Homo sapiens: one gene and its partners. The protein of the gene in region 2 purifies or fractionates together with the protein of the main gene of each other region. This does not show direct contact. Each region holds a gene or a part of one and is shown on either strand. Other genes may lie near its edges. The genes, in order: MFSD8, GAS6 and PCDHGC4.

Region 1 (3,653 bases), on a different chromosome or scaffold from region 2:
TAAAGACTCAAACCATGTCCTCATGTACTTTACAATATAGTATTCAAGTTCAATTATTCTACATTTGTGCTTGTATTTGTTTCAGGGTACAAAACTGAAATAGTAGATTTTGGTGAACAGTGAATTAGATTCCCTTCTGTTGAGCCTTTTCTTTTTGGCTAAATAGAGGAACGTAATGGAAACTGGGGGTGGGAGATGGGGTGTTAATGATGAAGTAAGCTGAGTTGGATTCAAACTGATAATATTCATAACTTCAATATTCAAAATATGGACCAATTATATGGTTTTTCAATATTATTCTAGGCATGAAAATGACTGATTCTTTACTCAGCAGAAAATTAATTTGCCTTGAGGAAATACTAAATCTCATTAATTTTTTTTGAGACAGAGTCTCGCGCTTGTTGCCCAAGCTGGAGTGCAATGATGTGATCTCAGCTCACTGCAACCTCTGCCTCCGAGTTCAAGCGATTCCCCTGCCTCAGCCTCCCAAGTAGCTGGGATTACAGGTGCCCGCCACCACACCTGGCTAATTTTTGTATTTTTAGTAGAGATGGGGTTTCACCATGTTGGCCAGGCTGGTCTCAAACTCCTGACCTCAGGTGATCTGCCTTCCACAGACCCCCAAAGTGCTGAGATTACAGGTGTGGACCACCACGCATGGCCTCACTAATTTTTTTAACACTCAGCAAAAGGGTGACCTTGGACAATTTACTTAGATTCTCTATGCACTGGCACTCTCAACTATAAAAGGGGACTAATAGCACTTAATTTAGTGGATTGGCATCAAGATAAAATGAGTGTAGCCTCATTCCTGGATTAAAAAAAAAATTAGCTTTCCTCCCTTTCCCTTCAGCTATGAGTTTTTATACTTGGGTTACACTGAATATTTAAGCCTCAAAAGTTTTCCCAATTCAAATTCAAGTAATGACATGTGAAGAACACCTACCTGGACCTAGAATAAAACCTAATGCTTGACACATGCTTATGTTTGCCATGGAACTTGTTCTTTCCTGAAGGGAAGTAGCACCAGCAGTATATGATCTAACAACTGCTACATTTCCTTAAAAACAAGACACAATAATCCAAAGTAAAAGAAAGTATCATTCAGCTTATAAAATTCAATCCAATTTGACTTTATACAGAAGAAGAAATCTTGGTCAACAGTACAGTCACTGCTTCCTCTTTATGATCACACAAAGCATGTAAGGTATTTTTATTAAGCAAATGCATCAATTAATGGACCATACTAGTTTTGGTAATATGAAAACAGTTAAAGATATCAATGAGTGAAAAAATGGTATCATAAGAAAACCAAGCCGGGCACAGTGGCTCACATCTGTAACCCCAGCACTTTCAGAGGTTGAGGTAGGTGGATCATTTTGAGGTCAGGAGTTCAAGACCAGCCTGGCCAACACGGTGAAACCCCGTCTCTATTAAAAATTCAAAAATTATCCACCTGTAGTCCCAACTACTCAGGAGGCTGAGGCAGAAGAACTGCTTGAACCCAGGATGCTGAGGTTGCAATGAGCCAAGATCACGCCACTGCACTCTAGCCTGGGCAACAGTGAAAAAAAAAAAAAAAGAATATCAAACTTACTTAGTACTAAAAAAGCACTGAGTGAATGGCATACCATTGATTACTACAACTGTTTTTAAAAGAAAAGTATTACAATATTACAAACTCTGTATGCATAGACATGTAATATAAGAAACAGAAAAAAATGCACTAACAATTTTACTGAAAATTTTCATTGAGTACATTACATTCAAGAGACTCTGTTAGGGGGCATAGGATATTTTTAAAGTATCATTAATTCTTTCTAATTGCAAAAAGTTTAGGTTGGGAATGGTGGCTCATGCCTGTAATCCCAGCACTTTGGGAGGCCGAGGCGAGTGGATCACGAGGTCAGGAGTTCAAGACCAGCCTGGCCAAGATGGTGAAACTGCGTCTCTACTAAAAATACAAAAATTAGCCAGGTGCAGTGGCAGACGCCTGTAATCCCAGCTACTCGGGAGGCTGAGGCAGGAGAATTGCTTGAACCCAGGCAGGTAGAGGATGCAGTGAGCCAAGATTGCGCCACTGCATTCCAGTCTGGGTGACAGAGTAAGACTCCGTTTCAAAAAAAAAAAAAAATTATTATCTGGTTAGTGAGAAAGGATAGAAACAGTACAATACTATAAGCAAGTGCCAGAGACATGTCAGAGAAGAAAAAAATCTCTCAAGGGGCAGGGTAGCCCAAGATGGCTTTGTGGAAAATGTGGAGCTTGAATTGGATCTATTTTTGTTTTGGGTTTTTTTTTTTTTAGATGGAGGTCTCCCTATGTTACCCAGGCTGGCCTCGAACTCCTGGGCTCAAGAGATTCTGCTACCTCAGTCTCCTGAGTAGCTGGTATTATAGGCACGTGCCACCACACCTGGTTTAAACTGAATCTTGAAGGATGAAGAATGATGAGAACAGAAGAGAAACTATAGGTAATGAGAACATCATGAGCAAAGGCAAAATGATAAGAAAAATATTTGTTTACAATGAGAAACATGTATGTTGAACTGTGAAATATGAGTTTAAAAGGGGATGAGACCAGTTAAAAGTGAGCCATAAATGTCAGAATGAATGTGAATATGACACAACCAAACATATACATACAACCTTACCTGCTCCAATTCCCAACAATCCACGAGCAACCAGCATGTAGTATTTATTATGAGAAGCTGGGATGTGGAGATATGCATAGAGGCAGTTGGCTGCCACGGAAATCAAGATGGAGACAATAAGAGGCTCTTTTCTTGGTCTATAATTAGACCATAAACCAAATATAGGTGAAGCTACCATTTGGCCAAGACTATATGAAGCAATAACCCAGCCCAAAAAACTTGTATCAGCTGTCGGATCAATCTGCAGAAAAAGGTACAGTGCTTTAAGAATTGTTATCCAAGAAAAGTTTAAAACTAAATACATTTGTCATACCATGTAAGATTTCCTATCAAAAAATAAAAACAATTCTAACGTATAAGTTTTATAACACTATTACTTATAGTAAGGGATTCAAACTTCTGACAATACAATTAAATGTGCTAACAATAGACTGTACACAAGGGAAAAATGCTTGGGAGGCTCATTTTTAAGAATGACTGGAAATTTTTGGTTCATATAAACCTTGGTAAGAAGATAATCACACACACTATATACGCATATAGCAATAACATCATGAAAAATAATATAAGCTATTCTTTAATTCTTGTAAATAGAATTCTTTAGACTTATGCTACCCTATACGTTAAACAGCCATTAGCGCTGTAAATCATTTTTTTTAAAAAAACTAGGCACAAGAGTCAAATGCATAAAGAAGATAATAAAAACACAAAAGATGATAGACAATTATCTCAATAAACCTGTTATAAATTCTTCCGTTCTATATAGACCACTCAGTATTCTACCACTTTAAAAGGGTTTACATATCATGATGAACTTAAGGGGAGAACCAAATGACTACAACTCAGAAAATAAAATACTTTCAGAAAAATAGAAAATGTTAGCTTAGAAAAGGCACTATTGTTTATTTTTATTTTTATTTTTTTTTTGAGACAGGGTCTCACTCTGACATCCAGGCTGGAGCGCAGTGGTCCGATCACGGCTCAGTGCAGCCTCGACCTT
Region 2 (3,653 bases):
CAGCCATCTTCAAGGCATCCATATCTATTTCATAATAGTGTATACTTTTTAATGATTCTCTGTAATTTTTGTATGCTTGAAATATTTCATAATTTAAAAATAAAGGGTCAAGGGAAATGAGCAGGGAAGGAGATGACGGGGACCCCCGAGAAGCCCTGTGGGAAGCGGCTGCTGCAAGCCCGCCCTTCACCTGGGAGTCCCAGTGGGGCAGGTGTGACAGCCTCTGGGGTCTCAGCAGCTAGAGGCGGGGTGGCCACTCCCGAGGCACAGGAGGGACAGTGGACCCGCTGCGCGGCCGGGGCGTGGGGCTCAGGGGAGCAGGAGTGAAGGCCACATCCCCGACCGGCGTGGCCCCCGTCCGTGGCAGGACATCTTGCCGTGCGTGCCCTTCAGCGTGGCCAAGAGTGTGAAGTCCTTGTACCTGGGCCGGATGTTCAGTGGGACCCCCGTGATCCGACTGCGCTTCAAGAGGCTGCAGCCCACCAGGTGAGGAGGTGTCCACAGGAGGCAACACAACTTAGAATGGCCAAGACACTGGCTTCACAGGGCCCGGGCCAGGGTTCGGCCAGCAGGGAGGGGCCGGGCATCTGCCTGTGCCCAGTGCTGACTCATTTCTCCTGTGGGTGCCCAGGCTGGTAGCTGAGTTTGACTTCCGGACCTTTGACCCCGAGGGCATCCTCCTCTTTGCCGGAGGCCACCAGGACAGCACCTGGATCGTGCTGGCCCTGAGAGCCGGCCGGCTGGAGCTGCAGCTGCGCTACAACGGTGTCGGCCGTGTCACCAGCAGCGGCCCGGTCATCAACCATGGCATGTGGCAGACAGTGAGTGTGCGGCAGCCACCCCTTCCAGGCCTCACGGGGTTCTCCCTGAGCCAGACTCAGCTGTCACTCGCTTATGCAACCGTTAGGAGATGAGCTCTGGGGCCTGCATCTGCTGCGTGCCGGCAGGACGGGGACCCCTGCCCCGTTTAGTTCATGCTCCGGGAGACGGGGACCCCTGCCCCGTTTAGTTCATGCTCCGGGGGACGGGGACCCCTGCCCCGTTTAGTTCATGCTCCGGGGGACGGGGACCCCTGCCCCGTTTAGTTCATGCTCCGGGGGACGGGGACCCCTGCCCCGTTTAGTTCATGCTCCGGGGGACGGGGACCCCTGCCCCGTTTAGTTCATGCTCCGGGGGACGGGGACCCCTGCCCCGTTTAGTTCATGCTCCGGGGGACGGGGACCCCTGCCCCGTTTAGTTCATGCTCCGGGGGACGGGGACCCCTGCCCCGTTTAGTTCATGCTCCGGGGGACGGGGACCCCTGCCCCGTTTAGTTCATGCTCCGGGGGACGGGGACCCCTGCCCCGTTTAGTTCATGCTCCGGGGGACGGGGACCCCTGCCCCGTTTAGTTCATGCTCTGGGGGCTCACTGTGGTGCTCTAGGCCTCTCTGCTATTTCATCACGTTTCAGCCTGGCTCCCTCAGAAAGGGGCCTTGAGTGCAACCTGTCAGTTTGGTCTCCCTGAGTTTGGTCACCCTGGCTCAGGTAGAACCCGTGGTTCTCAGCCCCAGGGGACCCTGGGCTGTGTCTGGAGGCCATGCTGTTTATCCCGAGCAGAGTGGGGAACAGAAGCCAGGGCTGCTTGACGCTACACGCAGGGTGCCCCACCAGGGGAGGAGGCCGCCACTGAACCCGCACCACAGCCCAGAGCTCCCGCCGTACGTGTCTCCCGGGCCGTGGCCAGGCCAGGCGCCGCCCGCCCACCCTTCCCTGTAGGACGGCGTGGACGCTGCGGTCCCTGAGCCCTGGCTCCCAGGGCCTGCTGGTCAGTGCGGCCATGCATGCCAAGGGTCCAGGTGACCTCACGGGAGCTGCCCCTTGCCAGAGACGTCCTGACCACCTGGACCCCAGCCCCATGGGCAACCTGAGGGGTCCTGGTCAGACCTGCACTTGGGCAGCTGTGGGCAGCGGTAAAACGTGCCCACCCCACATCCCCATCCGTGGAGCGAGAGGGCCTGTAAGCAACCAGGCTCCCGCCCACAGCGCTGGGCCTCCCTCACCATACTGGGCTTGCAGAAGGAAACGTTGGGAAGAAAGGTGGAAAGCACGTCTTGCCCTTCAGAAACATTGTAGACTTGTATTTCCATCCTGCAAAGCAATGCCTCGCTCCATTTTTCCCAACCTCTTAAAGGAGCAGTATCTCCAAGAGCAGGAGGCTGTTCTCAGCAAAGCTACAGAAAGCAAAGGAAGCAGAAGCAGTTTCAGGGATGGAGCCCCGGGGAGGAGGGCCCCAGGGCAGGTGGCCTGAGGCGAGGTCGCCTGGGGGAGCGGTGTTGCAGGGGATGGAGCCATGGGGAGGAGGGGCCCGGGGCAGGTGGCCTGAGGCGAGGTCGCCTGGAGGGAGTGGTGTTGCAGGGGATGGAGCCATGGGGAGGAGGGGCCCGGGGCAGGTGGCCTGAGGCGAGGTCGCCTGGGGGAGCGGTGTTGCAGGGGATGGAGCCATGGGGAGGAGGGGCCCGGGGCAGGTGGCCTGAGGCGAGGTCACCTGGGGGAGCGGTGTTGCAGGGGATGGAGCCACGGGGAGGAGGGGCCCGGGGCAGGTGGCCTGAGGCGAGGTCACCTGGGGGAGTGGTGTTGCAGGGGATGGAGCCACGGGGAGGAGGGGCCCGGGGCAGGTGGCCTGAGGCGAGGTCGCCTGGGGGAGCGGTGTTGCAGGGGATGGAGCCACGGGGAGGAGGGGCCCAGGGCAGGTGGCCTGAGGCGAGGTCACCTGGGGGAGCGGTGTTGCAGTGTAGTCCCGCCCAGTGACTCACAGCGGCCGCAGCACCCCACCAAGACAGGCCCTTCCCCAGCAGGGGTACCTCATGAGGACCCCTCCCCAATTCCACCCTCTCTAGCTGCTGCCCAAACCCAGCTGACCCGAATTTGTACCATGTTTTTGTGACTCAGTTCAAACCCAAATACCTGAAAGGTGTTTTCACACAGGAAGAAGGATATTCTTCTGAAGCTCAGGAATATAGTGTATCTAGCATTAGACTTTACAGGTTTTCTATGAGGAAAGGTTTTGGTGACCACATTGATGCATCGAGGGCCCTCCTGGCCCAGATGATGAGCAGGGACTCTCTGAGGTTGGGACCCTCTTGGCTCAGGTGTGGATCAGGTGGTCTCCTTGAGGTCAGGTCCCTCTTGGCTCAGGTGAGGATCAGGTGGTCTCCCTGAGATTGGGACCTTCTTGGCTCAGGTGTGGATCAGGGGGTCTCCCTGAGATTGGGACCCTCTTGGCTCAGGTGAGGATCAGGTGGTCTCCCCGAGGTCAGGTCCCTCTTGGCCCAGGTGAGGATCAGGTGGCCTCCCTGAGATTGGGACCCTCTTGGCCCAGGTGAGGATCAGGTGGACTCCCTGAGGTCAGGTCCCTCTTGGCCCAGGTGAGGATCAGGTGGACTCCCTGAGGTCAGGTCCCTCTTGGCCCAGGTGAGGATCAGATGGTCTCCTTGAGATCAGGTCCCTCATGGCTCAGGTGAGGATCAGGTGGTCTCTCTGAGGTTGGGACCCTCTTGGCTCAGGTGTGGATCAGGTGGTCTCTCTGAAGTTGGGACCCTCTTGGCCCAGGTGAGGATCAGGTGGTCTCCCCGGGTCAGGTCCCTCTTGGCCCAGGTGAGGATCATGTGGTCTC
Region 3 (2,376 bases), on a different chromosome or scaffold from region 2:
AGCATGGCCTTGGCCCCTACCAGTATTCTGGGGGTTAGCCCTGAAACTCTGAGGCCTGGGTGCAGGTAAGGAGAAGCTGGGCTGGTTGGGGAGAGGCCGCCCTGTGGCTCTTGGCCTGGCCTCCATGTTACTTCTTCTCCTTCTTGCCCGACTTCTTCTTGTTGCCATTGCCACCTGCTGGGGCCTTGCCATCCCGCTTGCCAGCTGCGTTGGTCAGTGTGGCATTGCTGCCTGGGATGTAGACATTCTGGCGGTAGTCGGGCACGTGCTGCAGGGTGAACTGGGGTCCGTAGCGGGCGCTCAATCCCATGGTGCCGGCACCCCCTCCCAGGGTGGAGCTCCCATCAGCAGCTTCTGCAGAGACAGAGGAAGATCAGGTGGGAGCTAAACTTAGGGTCCTCAACAGTCACTGTCTTATATCCCCAGCAGTTAATGAATGCCTATACAGCACCCTGGGCCTTGACCACGCTGAGCACTGGGAATATAGGGGTCACCAAGGTAGTCTCTCTTCACAAGAGTTGAGGGTAGAGGTTAAGAGGCTCTGGAGTGAGAAAGTCTAGGTTTGATTCCTAGCTCCTTTCCTTACTCACTGTGATCCTGGGCAAGTCTACCTAACCTCCTTATGCCACTTCAGTTTTCTCATCTGCAAAATGGGGATGATAATGGTAACCACCTCTTCTGGTTTTAGTGAATGCTAAATAAGAAAATGTATGTCAGGTACGTAAAATAGTGCCTGGTAGATGTAAGTGCTCAAAACACATTCGCTGGTATTTCTCTCAGGGCTGTGACACGGGCTCTCAGTTCCTTGCCCTGGCTTTCTCAAGGGAGCCTCTGACTCCCACACTAGACCATGGGCTCCTGGAGGGCAGCAGCCATGAAACCATGGCTTTACATGCCCCTAGCCTTTGCCAAGCAAGGCCTGGCACGAGTAGAGATTCGGTAGTTCCGTTAGTAAGTGTGTGGGGTGGGGGTGAAGAGTGCTCTTCCAAGCCTCCATTTCAAAACAGCATTTTTTTTTTTTTTTTTTTAAGATGGAGTCCTGCTCTGTCGCCCAGCCTGGAGTGCAGTGGCGCGATCCCGGCTCACTGCAACCTCTGCCTCCTGGGCTCAAGTGATTCTCCTGCCTCAACCTCCTGAGTAGCTGAGATTACAGGTGCACACCACTAGCCCAGCTAATTTTTGTATTTCAAAACAGCATTTGAGCACCTACTGTGTGCCAGGCACTCTGCTGGATGCTTCACATGCACAATCACTTTTAACCTCTACATAACAGCCCAGCCAGCTATGTGGTATGACCCTCATTTTACAGATGAGGGAACCAAGTGTTAGAAGGACCAAGGCCATACCCGGTAGCATTTGTTAGAGGGGCATTCAGGCCCAAGTGTACCTAAGCGCATGCTGGAAGGGACAGTCAGTCACCATCACCACCAGCAGCTTGGACCTTATCCCTGTTCTGAGTGAATGGGAGGTAGAGAGAAGATGGAGAAGAGCTCGGCTCTATGAAGCTGAGGAGATGATGATCTCGGGGACTAGACATCTCAGGGACACTTTAGGCACAGGCTCAGAGTGCCACAGCTAGGTGACATCAGACAGCACCTCCAGTCCAACGTCCCACTGTACAGAAGAAGAAACTGGGGCCCAGAGAAGTCCACACTCTGGCCCTGGCTCAGCATCACCCAGGAACTTGTTTAGAATGCAGCCTCTCGGAATTGCCAGCTGATTTGTACGCACTGTGAAGGCTGCTGTGAGGACTAAATGAGATGGTGCTTCATCCTGTGCAATACATCATCAACACCGTCACATCCAGCATGCCATCACCTCTACCCCTCACCTGCCCTGACTGGGTCGGGGGTGGGAGAGGAGGAAACAAGAGTTTGACTCATTGGGGCTCGCTGCTGGAGGCCCTGAGATCCTCTGTGGTTAGGAGACAGTTAAAACCTCAGGGATGCCCAGGCCAGCCCAGGCCCAGCTGGCAGTAGAGCTTCTCTCCCAGCCTCCCTCTGCCTCCACCCTGGACCCTGGGAGCGGGTAGCGAGAGTGACTAAAGCCGGAGAGGCTGAGTAATCCTGGGACATCAACCAGGGATTGAGAAATAGAGAGACAGGAAATATTTTCAAGCCGGCATAAGAGGAGGAGGGCACACGGGAGGGGAGAGCCGGGATGCGCCTCGGTTTTTCTCTTCACGCACCAGCGCTCAGGTTTCTACAGCCCCCATTTCATGTCGCAAATCCCCGGAGCTGAGAGCTTTCTGGGGGCGGGGGAGAGGGGTTGAGTGGGAGGGAGCAGCTGCCCACTTCCTCCTCTCCTACCCCAGCTGGCCCCCACCCCCAGCCCTTTCATTCCGCTGACATTTCTCTGTTTTCCCTAATTAACTCC

Evidence for each region.
Region 1: the proteins of GAS6 (region 2) and MFSD8 fractionate together in Homo sapiens (co-fractionation; one large-scale study listed by BioGRID). This does not show direct contact.
Region 3: the proteins of GAS6 (region 2) and PCDHGC4 purify together in Homo sapiens (co-immunoprecipitation; one large-scale study listed by IntAct). This does not show direct contact.

What each region holds. Positions count from the first base shown.
Region 1 is NC_000004.12:127,941,099-127,944,751, forward strand, and holds part of MFSD8 (major facilitator superfamily domain-containing protein 8), read right to left. Parts: intron 2,895-3,653; coding exon 2,654-2,894; intron 1,061-2,653; coding exon 947-1,060; coding exon of another isoform or gene 941-946; intron 1-940. UniProt on the Homo sapiens protein: Outward-rectifying chloride channel involved in endolysosomal chloride homeostasis, membrane fusion and function. Conducts chloride currents up to hundreds of picoamperes.
Region 2 is NC_000013.11:113,829,467-113,833,119, reverse strand, and holds part of GAS6 (growth arrest-specific protein 6 precursor), read left to right. Parts: intron 1-367; coding exon 368-486; intron 487-631; coding exon 632-821; intron 822-3,653. UniProt on the Homo sapiens protein: Ligand for tyrosine-protein kinase receptors AXL, TYRO3 and MER whose signaling is implicated in cell growth and survival, cell adhesion and cell migration.
Region 3 is NC_000005.10:141,508,925-141,511,300, reverse strand, and holds part of PCDHGC4 (protocadherin gamma-C4 isoform 1 precursor), read right to left. Parts: intron 355-2,376; coding exon 128-354; 3' UTR 1-127. Other genes in the region: PCDHGC5 (protocadherin gamma-C5 isoform 1 precursor), read right to left, coding at 128-354; PCDHGC3 (protocadherin gamma-C3 isoform 1 precursor), read right to left, coding at 128-354; PCDHGA12 (protocadherin gamma-A12 isoform 1 precursor), read right to left, coding at 128-354; PCDHGA11 (protocadherin gamma-A11 isoform 1 precursor), read right to left, coding at 128-354; PCDHGB7 (protocadherin gamma-B7 isoform 1 precursor), read right to left, coding at 128-354; PCDHGA10 (protocadherin gamma-A10 isoform 1 precursor), read right to left, coding at 128-354; PCDHGB6 (protocadherin gamma-B6 isoform 1 precursor), read right to left, coding at 128-354; PCDHGA9 (protocadherin gamma-A9 isoform 1 precursor), read right to left, coding at 128-354; PCDHGB5 (protocadherin gamma-B5 isoform 1 precursor), read right to left, coding at 128-354; PCDHGA8 (protocadherin gamma-A8 isoform 1 precursor), read right to left, coding at 128-354; and 11 more. UniProt on the Homo sapiens protein: Potential calcium-dependent cell-adhesion protein. May be involved in the establishment and maintenance of specific neuronal connections in the brain.